Homo sapiens: one gene and its partners. The protein of the gene in region 1 interacts with the protein of each later gene in a pairwise test. Each region holds a gene or a part of one and is shown on either strand. Other genes may lie near its edges.

Evidence for each region. Proteins that work in one complex are often made in the same cells at the same time.
Region 2: the proteins of LSM1 (region 1) and GSTA4 interact in binary tests that used the Homo sapiens proteins (3 or more experiments, as listed by UniProt).
Region 3: the proteins of LSM1 (region 1) and PATL1 interact in binary tests that used the Homo sapiens proteins (3 or more experiments, as listed by UniProt).

The regions. Positions count from the first base shown.
Region 1 is NC_000008.11:38,162,805-38,166,496, forward strand, and holds the end of LSM1 (U6 snRNA-associated Sm-like protein LSm1), read right to left. Parts: intron 1,037-3,692; coding exon 866-1,036; 3' UTR 535-865; downstream 1-534. UniProt on the Homo sapiens protein: Plays a role in the degradation of histone mRNAs, the only eukaryotic mRNAs that are not polyadenylated. Probably also part of an LSm subunits-containing complex involved in the general process of mRNA degradation.
Region 2 is NC_000006.12:52,978,273-52,985,309, forward strand, and holds part of GSTA4 (glutathione S-transferase A4), read right to left. Parts: intron 6,334-7,037; coding exon 6,192-6,333; intron 4,434-6,191; coding exon 4,302-4,433; intron 321-4,301; coding exon 198-320; 3' UTR 1-197. UniProt on the Homo sapiens protein: Conjugation of reduced glutathione to a wide number of exogenous and endogenous hydrophobic electrophiles. This isozyme has a high catalytic efficiency with 4-hydroxyalkenals such as 4-hydroxynonenal (4-HNE).
Region 3 is NC_000011.10:59,638,026-59,645,062, forward strand, and holds part of PATL1 (protein PAT1 homolog 1), read right to left. Parts: intron 5,011-7,037; coding exon 4,855-5,010; intron 1,359-4,854; coding exon 1,267-1,358; intron 1,173-1,266; coding exon 1,023-1,172; intron 387-1,022; coding exon 365-386; 3' UTR 1-364. UniProt on the Homo sapiens protein: RNA-binding protein involved in deadenylation-dependent decapping of mRNAs, leading to the degradation of mRNAs. Acts as a scaffold protein that connects deadenylation and decapping machinery.

The DNA.
Region 1 (3,692 bases):
ACGCCTGAGCGTTTATATTTTTTTTTTTTTTTTTTTGAGACGGAGTTTCGCTCATTGCCCAGGCTGGAGTGCAATGGTGCAATCTTGGCTCTCCGCAACCTCTGCCTTCCAGGTTCAAGTGATTCTCCTGCCTCAGCCTCTCAAGTAGCTGGGATTACAGCATGCGCCACCACGCCCTGGTAATTTTGTATTTTTAGTAGAGACAGGGTTTCTCCATGTTGGTCAGGATGGTCTTCAACTCCCGACCTCAGGTGATCTACCCGCCTCGGCATCCCAAAGTGCTGGGATTACAGGCATGAGCCACCGCCCCTGCCGAACATTTGTATTTCTTAACAGATACAAACATGGAAACAGGAGAGGACCCCTGAGATGACTGGAATAAAAATATTCCTTCCTAAGTAGCCAGCTACTTGAAACTGTGACTGAAGGGGGAAATCCCAGTATGTGGACTGCTTATACCTTTGAGAGCAGAAACTTAATTAATCTATTAATCTATTCATTACAGGTAACTCAAACTTGGAAATAACATGACACTTTTGAGATTCATATTTTATTTACAAGTAAATGAAGACTGTCCCTGTAAACTCTAATTTGGGATATGAAGAACAATATAAAGAAGTAGTTGCTGGTGCCACAGTGATGTGTGAAGGAGTCTATGCCACTGTTTCTTTAAACAGTGATTTTGTTATTAAAAAAAAAACCCACCTACACGATTTCTTCATGTTGCATATGTAAAATAATTAAAAATAAAAGTGACTTTTCAAAACTCTACAGTCTGTGATCAAATGCGTGAGGTGGCCAGGATGTCACTTTCACTCAGTGACAGCCCCTACTCTTCAAGAGCCAACAGCCTCTGGGCAAAAGATTAGTACTCATCAAGAGTATCTGCTCGAGGAATGGAAAGACCTCGGTCCTTCAGGGCCTGCACTTTCAACTTCTCTGCTTCCAGCTTGGTCTGCTGTTCCACCCTTTGTTCTTCTAGAATTTCTTCAATGGATACTTGCTGGAGGGGTGTGTCACTCTCCTTTTCCAAGTCCTACAAAAGAGACAGGTTTGAAAACTTCACCTGAAGACCAAGAATAGAAAGCACAGATCTCAAGGCAAATGGATTCCTCTATCAGGCTCAGATTATTTTTCATAACTGTGACAGGAACTGAAATATCCTTCTCCTAGGGACCGGTAAGTTTTTCAAAGAAATGCCTGACAACACTACTATAGGATACATACTTACAATGAGGTTAATAGTGATCAGTATATGTATATATTTTTCAAGATGGAGTCTCTCTGTCACCCAGGCTGAAGTGCAGTGGCGCAATCTGAGCTCACTGCAACCTCTACCTCCTGGGTTCAAGCGATTATCCTGCCTCAGCCTCCTGAGTAGCTGTGATTACAGGCACGTGCCACCACGCCTGGCTAATTTTTGTATTTTAAGTAGAGACAGGGTTTCACCACGTTGGTCAGGCTGGTCTCGAAACCTGACCTCATGATCTGCCTGCCTTGGCCTCTCAAAGTGCTGGGATTATAGGCAGTAATAAGTATTTGTATAACAGAGCTTTATGTGATCCAAAATCCCATATTAGTCAGGATTAATTTTCTATTAGTCCACGATTAATTTCCTTAAAAAAAAAAATTAGGGCTGCTTATAGACAGCTATCTCCCCCACTGCAGAGAATCCAAGAGGGAGGTTATTGAGGCAATGTGGCCTTAGACTTTTTTTTTTTTTTAATTATTTTAAGGACGGGTGGAGTGGCTCACAGTCGTAATCCCAGCACTTTGGGAGGCTGAGGTGGGAGGATCACTTGGGCCTAGGAGTTCGAGACCAGCCTGGGCAACACAGTGAGACCCTAACTAACTCCACCAAAAAACAAAACAAAAAAAAGCTGGTGTGGTGGTGTTCACCTACAGTTCCAGCTACTCAGGAGGCTGAGGTGGAAGGACTGCTTGAGCCTGGGAGGTTGAAGTTCAAGGCTGCAGTGAGCCATGAATGTGTCACTGCACTCCAGCCTCTGCAACAGCAAGACCGTCTCAAAAAAAGTAAAAAGACAAAAATAAAAAGGGATCCTCTTGCCTTTACCTCCTACGTAGCTGGGGCTACAGGTGTGCGCCACCGTACCAGCTCTGTAGTCTAGATCTAAACTGTAACAAGACTCTTTTTCCCTTTACGGCAACAAGTCTTCTAGGGAGAACCTCGGCAGACCATTTAGGTTACTAAACCAATTTGGTCCCAATATTTTTCTCCACTATTTAAAAAATTGCTGCTTAGGTTGGGCATGGTGGCTCACGCTTGTAATCCCAGCACACTGGGAAGCCGAGGCGGGCAGATCACTTGAGGCCAGGAGTTCGAGACCAGCCTGGCCAACATGGCAAAACCCCCGTCTCTACTAAAAATACAAAAAAAATTAGCTGGGCGTGGTGGCAGGTGCCTGTAATCCCAGCTACTTGGGAGGCTGAGGCAGGAGAAGCACTTGAACCTGGGAGGCGGAGGTTGCAGTGAGCGGAGATCACGCCATTGCACTCTAGCCTGGGTGACAAGAGTAAAACTCCATCTCAAAAAAAAACAAAAAATTGTTGCCTAATAAAAAATTCCTTATTTAAAAAATACACACTCATCGTAGATAATATGGAAAATAGACAAACAAGGAAAATTTAAAAATTATCCATAATTCCAGTATGGAGGATTAACATTTTGATAATATCCCTACAATTTTTCTACATATATACTGACTTAAAAAAAATAAACAACCCAGCCAGGTGTGGTGGCTCACACTTGTAATCCCAGCTACTCGGGAAGCTGAGGCACGAGAATCACTTGAATCCAGGAGGCAGAGGTTGCAGTGAGCCAAGATCACACCACTGCACTCTAGCCTGGGCGACAGAGTAAGACTCTGTCTCAAAAGGAAAAAAAAAAAAAAGTAAAAAATAAAAAATTAGCTGGGCGTGGTAACGTGTACCTATAGTCCCAGCTACTCATGAGGCTGAGGGGGGAGGATCACTTGAGCCCAGGAGTTTGAGGCTGCAGTGAGCTGTGATCACACCACTGCAGTCAGCCTAGATAACAAAGTGAGACGCTGCCTCAAAAACAAACCCCTCCCAAAAACCCACAATGCAAATACTGACTTTAATTCGTTTTTTCACTTAAATGTGGCATAGTATGCTTAATATTTTTATTTTTGAATGTTTTATAAACATTTTTCATTAATTATTTTTAAAGATATAGAAGACTTCATGAATTTGCGTGTCATCCTTAAGCAGGGGCCGTGCTAATCTTCTCTGTGTTGTTCCAATTTTAGTAGATGTGCTGCCAATGTGAGCACATTTTTCATTTTTTTAGAGACAGGATCTTGCTCTGTTGCCCAGGGTGGAGTGCAGTGGCACAATCACAGCTCACCATGATCTGAAACTCTTGGGCTGAAGTGATCCTCCTGCCTCAGCCTCCTAAGTAGCTGGAACTACAGGCATGTGCCACCACATCTGGCATTAAATCTTTTTTCTTTTTGTAGAGATGGGGTCTTGCTATGTTGCCCAGGCTGGTCTCAAACTTCTGGCCTCAAGCATCCTCTTGCCTTGGCCTCCCAAAGTGTGAGCCACTGTGCCTGGCCCTTATAAACATTTGCTAACCAATGTCATAATGCAGAAGAACCTTGCTAAAAAAGTATCTCACTGTCCATAGATTCAGTTTATTGTCCTTAAAA
Region 2 (7,037 bases), on another chromosome or scaffold:
GATCCCCTAACAATTATTTACTGGACAAAAAAGGTTGATATTTCTAGAAGAGATGATCTCGTTGACACAAAAGACCCAACTTAGGACCCAACTTAATACATAGATAGCACCATGACAGAGCTGGGATCCATTAAGACATGACTGTAGACAATACCATCTCTAGGAACACACTGTCACTCACACATGGATGTGTTGTTTTATGGCCTAAAGATGTTGTAGACGGTTCTCACATAAATTTCATCAGGGGGAGGCTTCTTCTTGCTGCCAGGTTCAAGGAATCTCTTAATTGTAGGGATATTACTTAGTTTCACTGTGTATTCCTGAAAAAGGAAAACCAAAACTTTAAGGCTAACAAAAAAGGTATTAGATACTACGAAGATATGGTTATGCAAAATGGCCCACCAAAATTTGTTCAATAAATACTTGTTGAAGAGTTCCAAGCAGAAATGAAATTTAGCATTTGTTTAGCAGGGGTGTCCAATCTTTTGGCTTCACTGGGCCACACATAAAATACACTAACACTAAAGGTAGCTAATGAGCTGAAAAAAAAACCTCAAAATATCTCATAATGTTATAAGAAAGTTTATGAATTTATGTTAGGCCACATTCAAAGTTGTCCTGAGCCACATGCAGCCCGCGGGCTGTGGGTTGGACAAGGCTAGGTTAAGATCTGATCTCTATGATTATTTACAATCTCTGTCATCAATCACCGGTATCAAGATCAGAGTTTACACAAATCTCCAGGTTCACAAAAAGGTAAGCACTCTTTACAGAAATGGCAAAAGTAAAAACATACTCAAAATAGAATTATGACACTTAAGGTGAAAAAAAAGGAAGGGGAAAACTCACTGAAAACACCTCCAGTGTATTGTTTTGTATTGTTTTTTAACAGTAGTCAATTTGAAGCAGTGGGAGTGGGGAAGGAACAAAGAAATCTGTAACTGGTTGTGATCAATTAGCTGTAAACACCACTCGGACTAGCCACCTGAAGTGCACTGATCTGCTGGGAGAAAATGCATGAGCCACTTAAGTAAAGGTGCTTTAAAAAGTCACTAGATGGTACAATTTATATCTTAAGATTCAGCTTCTTCAGAGTTTTTACTCCTATCAGTAAGTGAATCCTCTTTCTGGCTATGTGCAGGAAATAGCCAGTTGCATTTTTTTCATAGCCTCTGGCTCAGATACCAGATATTTATATAAACTGGAATGGAAGAAAAACATTGTATTTTTCATTCACAGAATCAAATCTTACCAATTCTCAGTAACTGAGAAGAAAAGCCCATTTGATCTAATGAAAAATCTGAACTATATGAAGAAGCATATGCTCATCATATATAATTATTCTAATAAAACCTTTTAAAGATATTTAAATAAAACCATTTATTTAAAAGTGAAGAGGTCATTTTAAATAGCTACTATTTATTAATTGCCTATTATGTGCAAGGCACAGCCTTAATTAAGCACACACACAAACATACATACGTCACTAATAGTAACAAAAACCCTAATAATGATGCCAATTAATTATATATAAATATGACAATTTTCTCTTTTCATTACGTACTTAAGCTCTACTTGTATGATTTTAAATATTATACCAAAATTTAGAATCTTGTTCCAAATGATGTATTGTTTCAAGATTTATCTGGGGTTCATAGTTATCAAAGTATAGTAAAATTTTTGTGACTTTTTAAATCCATTAATCAACACAGGAATAACCCTTTAAATTCAACACAGATCTGGTGTCCGATTCTGAAGTTTTAAAATATTGATGCTCAATCTGATCACAGATTAAAACTGTATTTACGCAGATAATGCTTGGGGCTTAAAAAAGGGTTGTTATTATAGTATCATCAATGTAAAATACCAATAGGTCCTGGTGCTACAGTTTACCAAAAAACCTTGATCTCTATCATTTACCCTAGACTTTTAAAATCTTTTGTGTCCATTCAATGAAAAGTACTTTACTGCCTGTGAGGTGTGTGTCTATGTGTACACAAGCATGTATATATATGCATGCCTGGAAAGATTTCACTTTGTTTTTTTTTTTGAGACACAGTTTTGCTCTGTCACCCAGGCTGCAGTGCAGTGGCATGATCTCGGCTCACTGCAACCTCCACCTCCCCAGTTCAAGTGATTCTCCTGCCTCAGCCTCCGAGTAGCTGGGATTACAGGCACATGCCACCATGCTCAGCTAATTGTTTTATTTTTAGTAGAGATGGGGTTTCACCATGTTGGCCAGACTGGTCTTGAACTCCTGACCTTAAGTGATCCACCCACTTCAGCCACCCAAAGTGCTGGGATTACAGGTGTGAGCCACTGCGCCCGGCCTAGATTTCACCTTTAATAAGCTTAGCATTCTACCTACTTCTGGGTTCAGCATCCCACCTATTTGGGGCCAAAGGTACTTCTAGTACTTCTAAATGTGTTTCTCAGAAACCACACAGTCTAGTGGAAAGAGTACAGACTTAGATCCCTGACTCCCCTGTGGCTCCCAACTCAGTCATCCACAGTCTTGCAACTATGCAGAATGTAATGTTTCCAAGCTGGTAATTTTCATCTGTAAAATGGAGATAGTGAAGCCCATCTCCTAGGGTTATTGGGGTGGGGTTGACGGGACAGATGAGCAAATGCATGTAAGTGCCTAGCAGACTGACTGGAATGAAGCTGGCACTCAACAAGTTGCAGATCCCTTCCTCTAATTTCCCTTCTCTGCTAAACAAGTAACTTTTTTAACAGTGCAAAAGAATACTTCAGGTGAAAAGTATCCTAAGTTCTGAATGAATAAAATCAAATTAAGGAAAGTCAATCTCTGTGTCTGCAAAAGTAAATGAAAAAAAAATTGAAAAAAAAATATAAACTATAACATAAATGATATGGTGGTTTATTGCCTTGTTGAAGATTTTTATTCTCATTTTCTGGGTGTACTTATTGAACTGGTGGTAATTGCTCTCATTAGTATATCAAAATATTTAATAGACTTGGCAAAAAATTGTTTTAAGTATGTGTGTTACTCTTTGGAGAGTTAGTGTATCTCTCTTGGCTTTTGATAACTTGGTCAAACATATAGCAATTTGGTCTGTATCCAGGCTGTTTCAGGGATTGGCAAGCTTTTTCCATAAAGGACCAGTCAGCAAATATTTTAAGTTCTGCAGGCCATATGGTCTCTATCAGATCTACTCAACTCTGCTGTAGAAAAACAAAAGTAACCTTGACATTGTGTAAATGAGTGGGCATGGCTTTGTACCAATGAAATTTATGAATACTAGAATTTGAATTTCATATAATTTTTATGTGTCATGAAATATTATTCCACAGATTTTTTTCAACCATTTAAAAATGTAAAAATTATTCTTAACTCACAAGCTGTATAAAAACAGGTGGCAGGCCAGGTTTGGCCCAGGAGTTACAGTCTGCACATTAGACTTGGAGATAAAAGGCTAAGGTTCTAGATAAAACTCAAGCATCCACTGCCTAAGCCAGCTTGGCTGCTGATTTCTTTATTCTGGGTCTCTACTTCCTCAAGTGAATATTGAAGTCATTAAATGAGTTTTTTTTTAAAGGCCCTTCTCTCCTTTAAAGTTCTATGATCAATCCTGCCAGAATAACCCTGAGGGATAATTTGAACCACACAAGTCTTTCCTTGGAATTCTCAGAAGGAGAATGGTAGGAATCCTTTGGGGTGATGTTTAGGGTGCTAACATCTCTCATTTGCTCTCAGAGCTCAGGCTTAGAATTTCCTAACTTGAGACCATACTATTTCTGAGAAAGGGAGTCATAGCCTGATGAATGAGACTGTTTTGATGTTTATCTCGCCCACTATTCCATCAGTAGATACATGTGAGTGTGAGACCACCTCATCTCTATGGTTATTTCTATGGAAAGTCCCCTGAGGCAAACTCCCTGTGCATGGAGTTTTTTCCAGGAGTGCAGTTATGGAACAAAATTAAGATGAAAATTTCTGAGCTGGGTGTGCTGGCACATGCCTATAGTCCCTGCTACTCAGGAGACTGAGGTGGGAGGATCTCTTGAGCCCAGGAGTTCAAGACCATTCTGGGCAACATAGTAAGATCCCACCTTAAAAAAAAAAAATTTTACACTTCAATGATCTTTCAACTTGAAGGATTTAAGGACCAGAAAAATAACTTTGGGTCCTTACTTTCATTTCATTTGCCAAACTAGAATCTTAAAAATATTACACATACACACACACACACACTCCCCAAAGCCAACCAAACAATAGACACTGAAGGAAGGCCCAAGAGTTCTAGGCCAATCTTCTAATACATAGTTTTATTTACCTGGAGGAAAGGAAATGCAGACAGGATATTAGGAATTTTCTCTTCTAGAGCTAAAATGGTTTGGAGTAAAATCACATCTGCAAGGCTCAGCTGATTACCAACAAGAAAGCTTTGTCCGTGACCCCTTAAAATCTGTAGGGAAATGGTGTGCATCAGTTACAATATTCCACATGGAGAGAGTGATGAGGCTATTGAATCAGTGCAGTATCTGAGAAGAGGTGAAACTATGACCTTGTCATTTCATGCTTTCATAAATAACATCAATTAAGAGAACGCACCCTATATCTGACAGAGAGAGTGAGAGAGAGGGGGAGAGAGAGAGAGAGAGAGCGAGAGAGAGAGAGAGAAAGTACAAAAAAGGTGTGGAAATGAAAGCATCCTTAAATATCTGCTGTGGATCTGAATGAGACATTGAAGTGGGGAAGGGAAAATTCCTTATTTCTGGATTTAGCATCTGGTGTTTTGAAAGGATATATCTACTCCAAAAATGTATCTACAGAAATGCATGCAGGAGGCTTGGGGAGGGGCAGGGTGATTTAAGAAATCTAAGTGATAGATCATCTTCAAGGGGCCCACTCTTATTTCCCAGTTCTGCTGCTAGAACATCAAGAGGTGTAGTCATAAACTCAACCCAATTATAAAATTAGACTTCCTCTTACATGTCCCAAAACAGAGAAAATGAAAAGCTTGAGTTCATCTTGACTCCCATTCTGAGGGTAACGTATAGGTGTGGGGCTTATAAGAATAGATTGTGATTAGGGAGAGGCAAGAAGCAGTAGTAGCAAAGGGGAGATCCCCTTCACAGTCAACTCTTGGATGCCCATGGGTGTCTGCATGTGCACAAGTGTGTGTGTCACAGGGACTCCGAACACAATTCCAGGTCAAATATAGCTACTGGAGCCAGAGTGGCATAGTACAATGCATCCTGAATTTGTAGTCAGAGGCCAGAGTTCCAACCCTGCTCTCCATTTTCTGGCCATGTTACCTTGGACAGGTCACTGAATCTCTTCATGACTTCATTTCATTATGTGTAAAAGGGACAACGGTTCTCACCTCATAGGCGTGTTGCAAGAAACCCTGACACAGTCTGGGCCCTTGGGACCTAAGAATGAGCAGTGAACCTTTGCCAAAGCACCAGGTCCTCTGTGCCCGTTCCAGACCACATTTCTTCATTATCCTATTTTACATTCACAAAGTGCCTGTGGGAAAGATACCATAAAACCTAGCTACAGAAACCCCAGAAAATACCTCTCCTTTTTCCTAAATCTAGTTCCATAAAGATGGTCAGAGGAAGCTTGCCAAATAGGTCTTCCCATATTTTCACACCCTCTTCTTTAGTGTTTGCATTGAAACACTAAAAAAGTTCCTCCCAGTTCAGGAATAAAGAATTTGAAGCTCAGAAAAGCAGATATAACAAGAAGAGAAAAACAACAAAACCAAAAACAAAAAGAGCAAAGGGAAGATAAATAAAATGGAAATGGTTCTTCTACTCATATCGAATTATCAGGGAGGATGTCAGCTGAGACAGCTGTTCGACAACTTTTGTTGAATGAATGAATGAGGTAGTTTTTGTTTTCTGTATCTTCTGAAGTTTCTGCTGTATCCACACAAGGTGGGAACTTGGTGAATGCAAGGAACAATAAGGAACAAAGGCAGGGAGCCCATACTTTTTCTAGACTTCTGAATCATGTGGTCCTAGCAGAGTCCAAGGGGCTCTAAGACACCAGCTTTGTGCTGTGGCTACTATTCGCTCTTAGGAGTCCATTAGCGCTTAGGTTAGTTCAACTGGGCTCAGTTTTAAAATCCTTGGACAGAAAAGGGTGTTTGTGGCAGCTTCTTTGTGGTTTGTGGTTTGGTTGCTCTGTGTATGTAGGCATCTCTGCCACCTACCTTTTCAAACACAGGAAAGTATCTAATTATAGCCTTCTGGGCCATGTTAACCACTTCCTTTTGCTGATCATCTGGTTTTAAGAAAGGATGCATGATAAGCAGTTCCAGCAGATCCAGTGTCCCCTCCACGTACATGTCAATCCTTAAAACAAAAAAGCAGTTGTCTCAGTTTCTCCTCTCTTTGAAGCCATCAGTTTCCACAACTAAGAATTCAGAGTGCTTTTTTTTTTTTTTTTAAAGATGCTGCAACTTAAGTCCCTAGAAGCATTTACCTATACCTGTCTCTTAAGAGCAAAGATATAAGGTCAATTCTAGTTGTAACTCAGAAAAATCTGTCACAGATCAGACAGCTTGACAGTCATGAGTGCTCTCTCTCCTGGCATCCTACTCCTCCACTTTTACCCCAGCATCCATGTTTTGGTCTCTTCGTATGGGTCAAACTTCAACTTTATAAAAATAGTGAATACCACTTATTGAGTGCTTAGAGTGTACCAGGCATGGTGCTAAACACTCTCTATCCATTATCTCATTAAATCACATGACACTATGAGAAATGTACTATTCTTATACCCACGTTGCCCAGGGTCATACATCTAAGGGGTGCAAGGACCAGGCTTTGATTTCAAATTATAATCTAATGCTCACTCTCCCAGGCCTTGAATGTCACAGCAGCTCCTCATTCCTAATACTTAACAATAGTGAATGTGCAAGAAAGGGAAAAAGCAGTATCAAAGCATTTAAAAATGTTGAAATCTGAAACAATGACACCCTAGATATAATATTCAATATCTGAATCCTATTCTTTTGTTTTACTCAGACTCTCTCTACTGAAGTTCCAACTGGTCT
Region 3 (7,037 bases), on another chromosome or scaffold:
GAAGGAATCCTTTGGCAGGCTACAATCTACTCTGAGGTGGAGTAGTGGAGGGATAAAGGGAGAGATTACACTTGTGTCTCTAGGGCAAAGAAAATGCAAAACAGAACTGAGTAAAAGTAGGACATGCAGAACTGTAACACAGAAGGTAAAGAAACCAGCAGAAGTATCACCCAGCCAAATTTCATAGAGCAGTGGGGAAATATCTGACATTTAGAGAGACAACCCCTGTAAACAGGAATCGATCCCACAAGACTTTGCTTTGGGGAAAAAGCTACCTTCCTTCCCTCATTAAAAACACTCCATTGGTGATGGCAGCAGTGCAGGTGGCAGCCAAAAGGAGGTACAGGACACATTTGGAGATCTTTTATCGTATCCCCTGAACTAGCCTAGGAGTACAAAGGAGAGAAAGGAAAATTGTATAAATGAGTTAAAACAGAAGGCAATCTTTCATATTACAGTTACATCTTTGTAAGACTTCTCATAACAAAATACCCGAGATTATTTCTCTACCCTTAGCATTTGGTCATCTTTTATGAAGGCCCTGTTGTACCCAGTTCAGTGTTTTATATCTAACAGATACACAAATAGTTAATAAAAAGTCAATCTCTTCCACCAAATTCAGTTTTATTCCCCCCTCCACCCCAATCATAACTTCTTTTTATTTATTTTTTTTGAGACAGGGTCTTGCTCTGTCACCCAGGCTGGAGTGCAGTGGCGTGATCTCAGCTCACTGCAATCTCTGTCTCCCGGGTTTAAATGATTTTCATACCTCAGCCTACCGAATAGCTGGGATTACAGGCATGCACCACCGCACTTGGCTAATTTTCGTATTTTTTTAGTAGAGACAGGGTTTCACCATTTTGGTCAGGCTGGTCTGGAACTCCTGGCCTCAAGTGATCCACCCTCCTGGGTGTCCTAAAATGCTGGGATTACAGGTGTGAGCCACCGTACCCAGCCTCCCAACCATAACTTCTAAAGTCCCAACTTTAGTGAGATGTGAAACTCTCCTGTTTCAAACTTACTGCAGTTTTGTCTCCAGCAAGTTCAGTTTCTGCCGGTCAACATAGCGAGAAAAGAGGGACACTAGGTTTGTAGGTATAGAGATTGGCTTGGCCAGGGCTGCTTGGGGAATCCGCAGAAGTTCTCGTGTTGCCATGAACATCACCTCCGTCCTGACAGGGAAGACCCATAATAATATCAGGAGAAAAAAATTTAAAAGATTACCTCAAAGAACTTAAAATAAGAGAAGAAACAGTCCACACTGACCACTGATTATTTTGTGTTGATTCTGTAGCAGGGTCTGAACTCTGTAGGTCTTCACCACGGCTCAGGAGGATGAGGAGCAGTGACAGGCCAAACTACGAGAAAAGACAGAGGGAATCAAACTCAACACTGTGTCTAAACCTCCTCCACCACTGTTGAAGGGATCCTGGCATCAGATGGGGAACAGCTCTAAATCAAAATAACCTCACTACTGTGCTTTTCTGTAAAACCAGGTAAAGATCAGACAAGCATGAGTTGAAAGGCTATGTCTCTCTCCAGGCTTTATTCTGCCATAGCAGTGACCAGGCGCAGCCAACAGAAACGGAAAGTCATGGTGTCCAACACGCCTCTCTGTTCCCCATGCTGAGGTTAAAAGATGGTTTTTCCTTGCCATGGATAATGTAGAATTTGACTTTTCTCCTATTTATGAGAACAGAAATAGGCTAAAAAAGAAAGTAAATGAAGACCAATTTTGGTACAGAAATTAAAAATCAGGAAAAAATAAGAAAAAAGCATTACAGTAAGATATTTTGAATTAAGAAACAAGGTGTAAACTGTAGGAAAATATACAAATAAACACAACTGAAATAAACATGGTATAAAGAGAAACTTTCCATTAAAAAGCACATCTCTATCTGGAAATACAAAGTCTTAGACAGAATGTTAATAAAAATCTAAAAAATAAAAAGAGAGAAAGGGTAAACAGATGTATACACCGTATCTATAATTAAAATTCAGCAACATGCTTTAGAGTATGCAATATATAAAAATGGTCAGGTGTGGTGGCTCATGCCTGTAATCCCAGCACTATGGGAGGCCAAGGTGGGTGGATGACCTGAGGTCAGGAGTTTGAGACCAGCCTGATCAAAATGGTGAAACTCCGTCTCTACTAAAAATAGAAAATTAGCCAGGCACGGTGGCACATGCCTGTAATCCCAGCTACTTGGGAGGCTGAGGCAGGAGAATTGTTGGAACCCGGGAGCTGGAGGTTGCAGTGAGCCAAGATCGCACCATTGCGCTCCAGCCTGGGCAACACGAGTGAAACTCCATCTCCAAAAAAAAAAAAAAAAGTAACATATAAAAATGTGTTTTATTTAGTGGACAGTAAAATCAGGAAATGTAGTCTTTGGGGCATAGGATTAAAATATGGGACGGGCGTGGTGGCTCATGCATGTAATCCCAGCACTTTGGGAGGCCAAGGCGGGTGGATCAAGAGGTCAGGAGATCGAGATCATCCTGGCTAACACGGTGAAACCCTGCCTCTACTAAAAAATACAAAAAATTAGCCAGGCGTGGTGGCGGGTGCCTGTAGTCCCAGCTACTCGGGAGGCTGAGGCAGGAGAATGGCTTGAACCCAGGAGGCGGAGCTTGCAGTGAGCTGCGATCGCGCCACTGCACTCCAGCCTGGGTGACAGAGCAAGACTCTATCTCAAAAGAAAAAAAAAAATGAACAGGGGGCTGGGGATGGGCATGGTGGCTCATGCCTGTAATTCCAGCACTTTGGGAGGTGGAGGCAGTACTGCTTGAGTCCAGGAGTTCGAGACCAGCCAGAGCAACATAGTGAGACCCTGTTTCTGCAAAAAATATAAAAATCAATCGGAGGCTGGGTGTGGTGGCTCACACCTGTAATCCCAGCACTTTGGGAGGCTGAGGCAGGTGGATCACGTGAGGTCAGGAGCCCCGGACCAGCCTGGCCAACATGGCAAAACCCTGTCTCTGCTAAAAACACAAACATTAGCCTGGTATGGTGGCGGGCACCTGTAATCCCAGCTACTTGGGGGCTGACGCAGGAGAACTGCTTGAACCTGGGAGGCAGGGGTTGCAGTGAGACAAGATATCGCCATTGCACTGCAGCATGAGTGACAGAGCAAGGCTCTGTCTCAAAAAAAAAAAAGTCAATCAGGCATGGTGGCACATGCTACTCAAGAGGCTGAGGTGGGAGGATCGCTTTGAGTACAGAAAGTTGAGGCTGCAATGAGCTGTGACTGTGCCACTGCACTGAAGCCTGGGTGACAGAGTGAGATCCTGTCTCAAAAAAGAAAATACAAATAGGGACAAGAAGGTTTAGGTTAAATGTATGACTCATACCTATAAATGGATCATAAAAGGAAGGCTGGCAGTACTTTGGGATTCCATTCCAACTTTCTAGACTCACTCACTTTTCCACAAAATTTCCCTTCATGGCCGGTTGCAGTAGCTCACACCTGTAATCCCAACACTTTGGGAGGTCGAGGCAGGCTGATAGCTTGAGCTCAGGAGTTTGAGACCAGCCTGGACAACATGGCGAAACCCCACCTCTACAAAAAATACACAAATTAGTTGTGCGTGGTGGCATGTGCCTGTAGTCCCATCTACTTGGGAGGCTGAGGTGGGAGGATGGCTTGAGCCCAGGAGGCAGAGGTTGCAGTGAGCCGAGATCTTGCCACTGCACTCTGGCCTGGGTGACAGAGAAGACCCTGATTTAAAAAAAAAAAATCCCTTTTCATGTTATTCTCAGAAAAAAAATACTACTGCCTTTACTAAAATTAAAACTAAGAGACCAAATAACAGAAAGGCACATTCCGGATCACTCCAGAACCCCAGAGGCACTGTCACCTCTTCTTCCTCTGATACACTGACCTTTAGAGTCATGCTTTGGTAGGTTTTCTGGTGCAAAGGAGCAAGAGGCCTTGAGACCACTTTTTCATCTCTACTGTACATAGAATGGCCCTTAATGAGTAACTACTATGTACCAGGCATTATATCGAACCACTTACAACTGTTATCTCATTTAAGTACCAGGACAACTCTATGAAGTCTACATCATCACCTCCATCTTATAGACCAGGAAACTGATTCAGCAATGTGATATCATCTGTCCAAGGTCACAAAGCTAGACAGTAGCAGGGAAGGACTAAAAATTCATATTCTTTATTTCATATTATGTTTCCCCTAGGAATCTCTGAATCTTTAAACTTGATGCAAATAAAATATGAAATGGATGATTCTACTATTCATAGTGTTATGACAGAGACTGCTAATTGCCTAATATGCCTTCCTACCCATTATCAGAACTCTTATGTGTCATGACAATGGCATAAACTAAAAGATATTTTCCAGCCTTCCCTGCACTTAGGTGTGGCCATGTGACAATGTCCTGGCTATTAACAGTAAGTAGAAGTTTCTGGTTAGAACTCCTGGAAAAGGTCTCAATAAGGAAGATGGACAGCTGGTCCACATCTTTTTGCCCTCCACATCCACCTGTCCTTCTTGATGTAAAGCTGAATCATGAATTCCACAGCCATCTTGGACCATGAGGAATAATGAACATGGAAGCCACTGGTAAGAATGGCAGAGGAAAAAAAGTGAAAAAGCCTGGATCCCTGATGACTCTGTCGAGCTACTAAATCAAATTTATTTCACACTAGACACATAAAATCCCATTTTGTTGAAAACACTGTTATTTCTAGCCGGTTACTAGGAGCTTAATGTAACTCTTGACTGAAAGAAGCCTTTTTCCCAAGTTGCTAGAGATACAGCAGCCATTATTTTAATCTATAACGCAAATTAAGACATTTCACAAAGTTCAAGGAGTTAAAAGGGCAAGATCACCTTGTTCTGGAGCACAGCAGTGAGGTGAGGATTGGAGAGTGCTGGTGTAGCTGCACTTTGAGGTAGGTTCATTAGCTGTCGCAAAAGGCTGGTGATACTCACTGATGGAAGATGATAGAGAAGGAGAGAGAAGGGACTCAGTAAGCATGGCAGCACCTACAAAAAACAAATAAAAGCATTATATCCTGGCACGTGTTACTTCAGTTACCCCCCACCAGGGGCATGGATGGAAGGATGTTCATTTGTATATTCAACCACTTAAGGCACAAGTCTGGCAGATATGACTAGAGTCTTAATAATGAATTCTAAGCTATCTACTGAGAACTTTTTCATCTCAATTTGCATTGGAAACACCATGACTTGTGTGAACCAAAGGTGTAAAAAAAAATCACTCCCAAATACATACCAAGAGTTATGCTAAAACATCAATATTTTAACTAATTCCATAAATATTTAAATGCTTACACTACACCATGGGCTAAAAACAAATGGCAAAAGGACACAGAACCTCAGGGATCTAAAGTATAGCGGAGAAGATATGGGTTAATTGGCCATTTCAATATACTGTGAGAAGCACTCCAAGATAGGTTAAAGGCCAAGCAGAAGATCACTTCAGGCCAGGAGTTCAAGACTAGTCTGGACAACGTAGTGAGACCTCATCTCTACAACAAATAAAAAAGTTTCACCTGTAGTCCCCAGCTACTCAATAGGCTGAGGTGGTAGGTTTGCTTGAGTCTAAGAGTTCAAGGTTACATTGAACTATGATTGCACAACCACATTCCGGCTTGGGTGACAGGGTGAGACCCACCCTGTCTCAAAAGAAGTGTTTTCAGATTTAATGTATTTTCTTTTATTTTTATAAAAGCTCAATGAGGAAGAAAAGAAATAATTAGCCAATTTTTATAGATTTTTAGAGAATCTATAAAGTGATCAGAAACTCAGTGTTTGGAGTTACATAGCCACAGCTAGAGCCAGAACCCAAGGCTGTTGAATTCCAGCCTTCTAGTCATTTATTTCTTTTTGTCATGTAGCCAACTGGAAAGTTAAAATAAAGAACTATTAATATAAATAACTAGGTTATAACACAACAAAGGAAATCAAGAGTGCTTCCAGACAATCAATGCACATGGTATAAAGTGATGGCTGGTTTTACTTTAAATGGCAACTGCAAATGGGGAATAAAATATTTTTTGTGGTCTACTATAAATTAAAAAAGCTTTTATTATGGTCATTTTAGAACATACATGAAAATACAAACAACAGCATAATGACATTCATGTACTCACCACCCAATTTCAACATCAACCAAATTATCAACATTTTGCCAATCTTATTAAATCTATGTTCCTTCTGTATCATATCATTTCATCCCAAAATACATCAGTTTGTATTTCTAACAAAATCTCTCACAATATCATACCTAACAAAATAAACAATAATTTTTCTTCATAGACCATTTCTCAGGAAAGAATTTTAAAATATCATCTAGTATCTGTTTCAAATTCAAATTCCCTCAAATGCCTTTAAAAATATCTTTTAGCAGCTGAACTTTGTATTAGAACCATTATTGTGCTAATTATGGTTCAAACAAGATCCACACATTGCATTTGCCTGGTAAGGTTTTTAAAATCTCTCTAACAGGTCTTCTGCCACTGGCCCTTTTCTCTTGTTATTTATCTGTTAAAGAAACTGGGTCATTTGTTCTATAGTTTGAATTTGGCAAACTGCATGTTGGCAGTGTCACTTAGCAGGTTCTGCTATCCTCTGTTTCCCTCCTAAACAGATAGTTAGAATAACAGGTTTATTTGATTCAGGTTCAGTAGGATGTGGGAGGGACATGTGAGAAAACGTCATGGATAGAACTGTGTATTTTCCATTGCATTATGCCAAGAAGAGCTAGGTATGGTGGCTCATGCCTGTAATCCCTGCATTTTAGGAAGCAGAGATGGGAAAACTGCTTGAGCCCAGGAGCTCGAGACAAGCCTGGACAACATAGGGAGACTTCGTTTCCTTTTTTTTTTTTTTTTTTTAAAAAAAAAAAAAAAGCACAGTGCTTGGTTGTCCCACTCTTAGAGGTGTTAAGAGTTCATTAATGGGTTCAGGTGTTGCCAGGCTGCTCCAACCACTGTAAAGTTCCCCATCCACTTTTTTTTTTTTTTTTAATCCATTCAACCCTGAGTGGA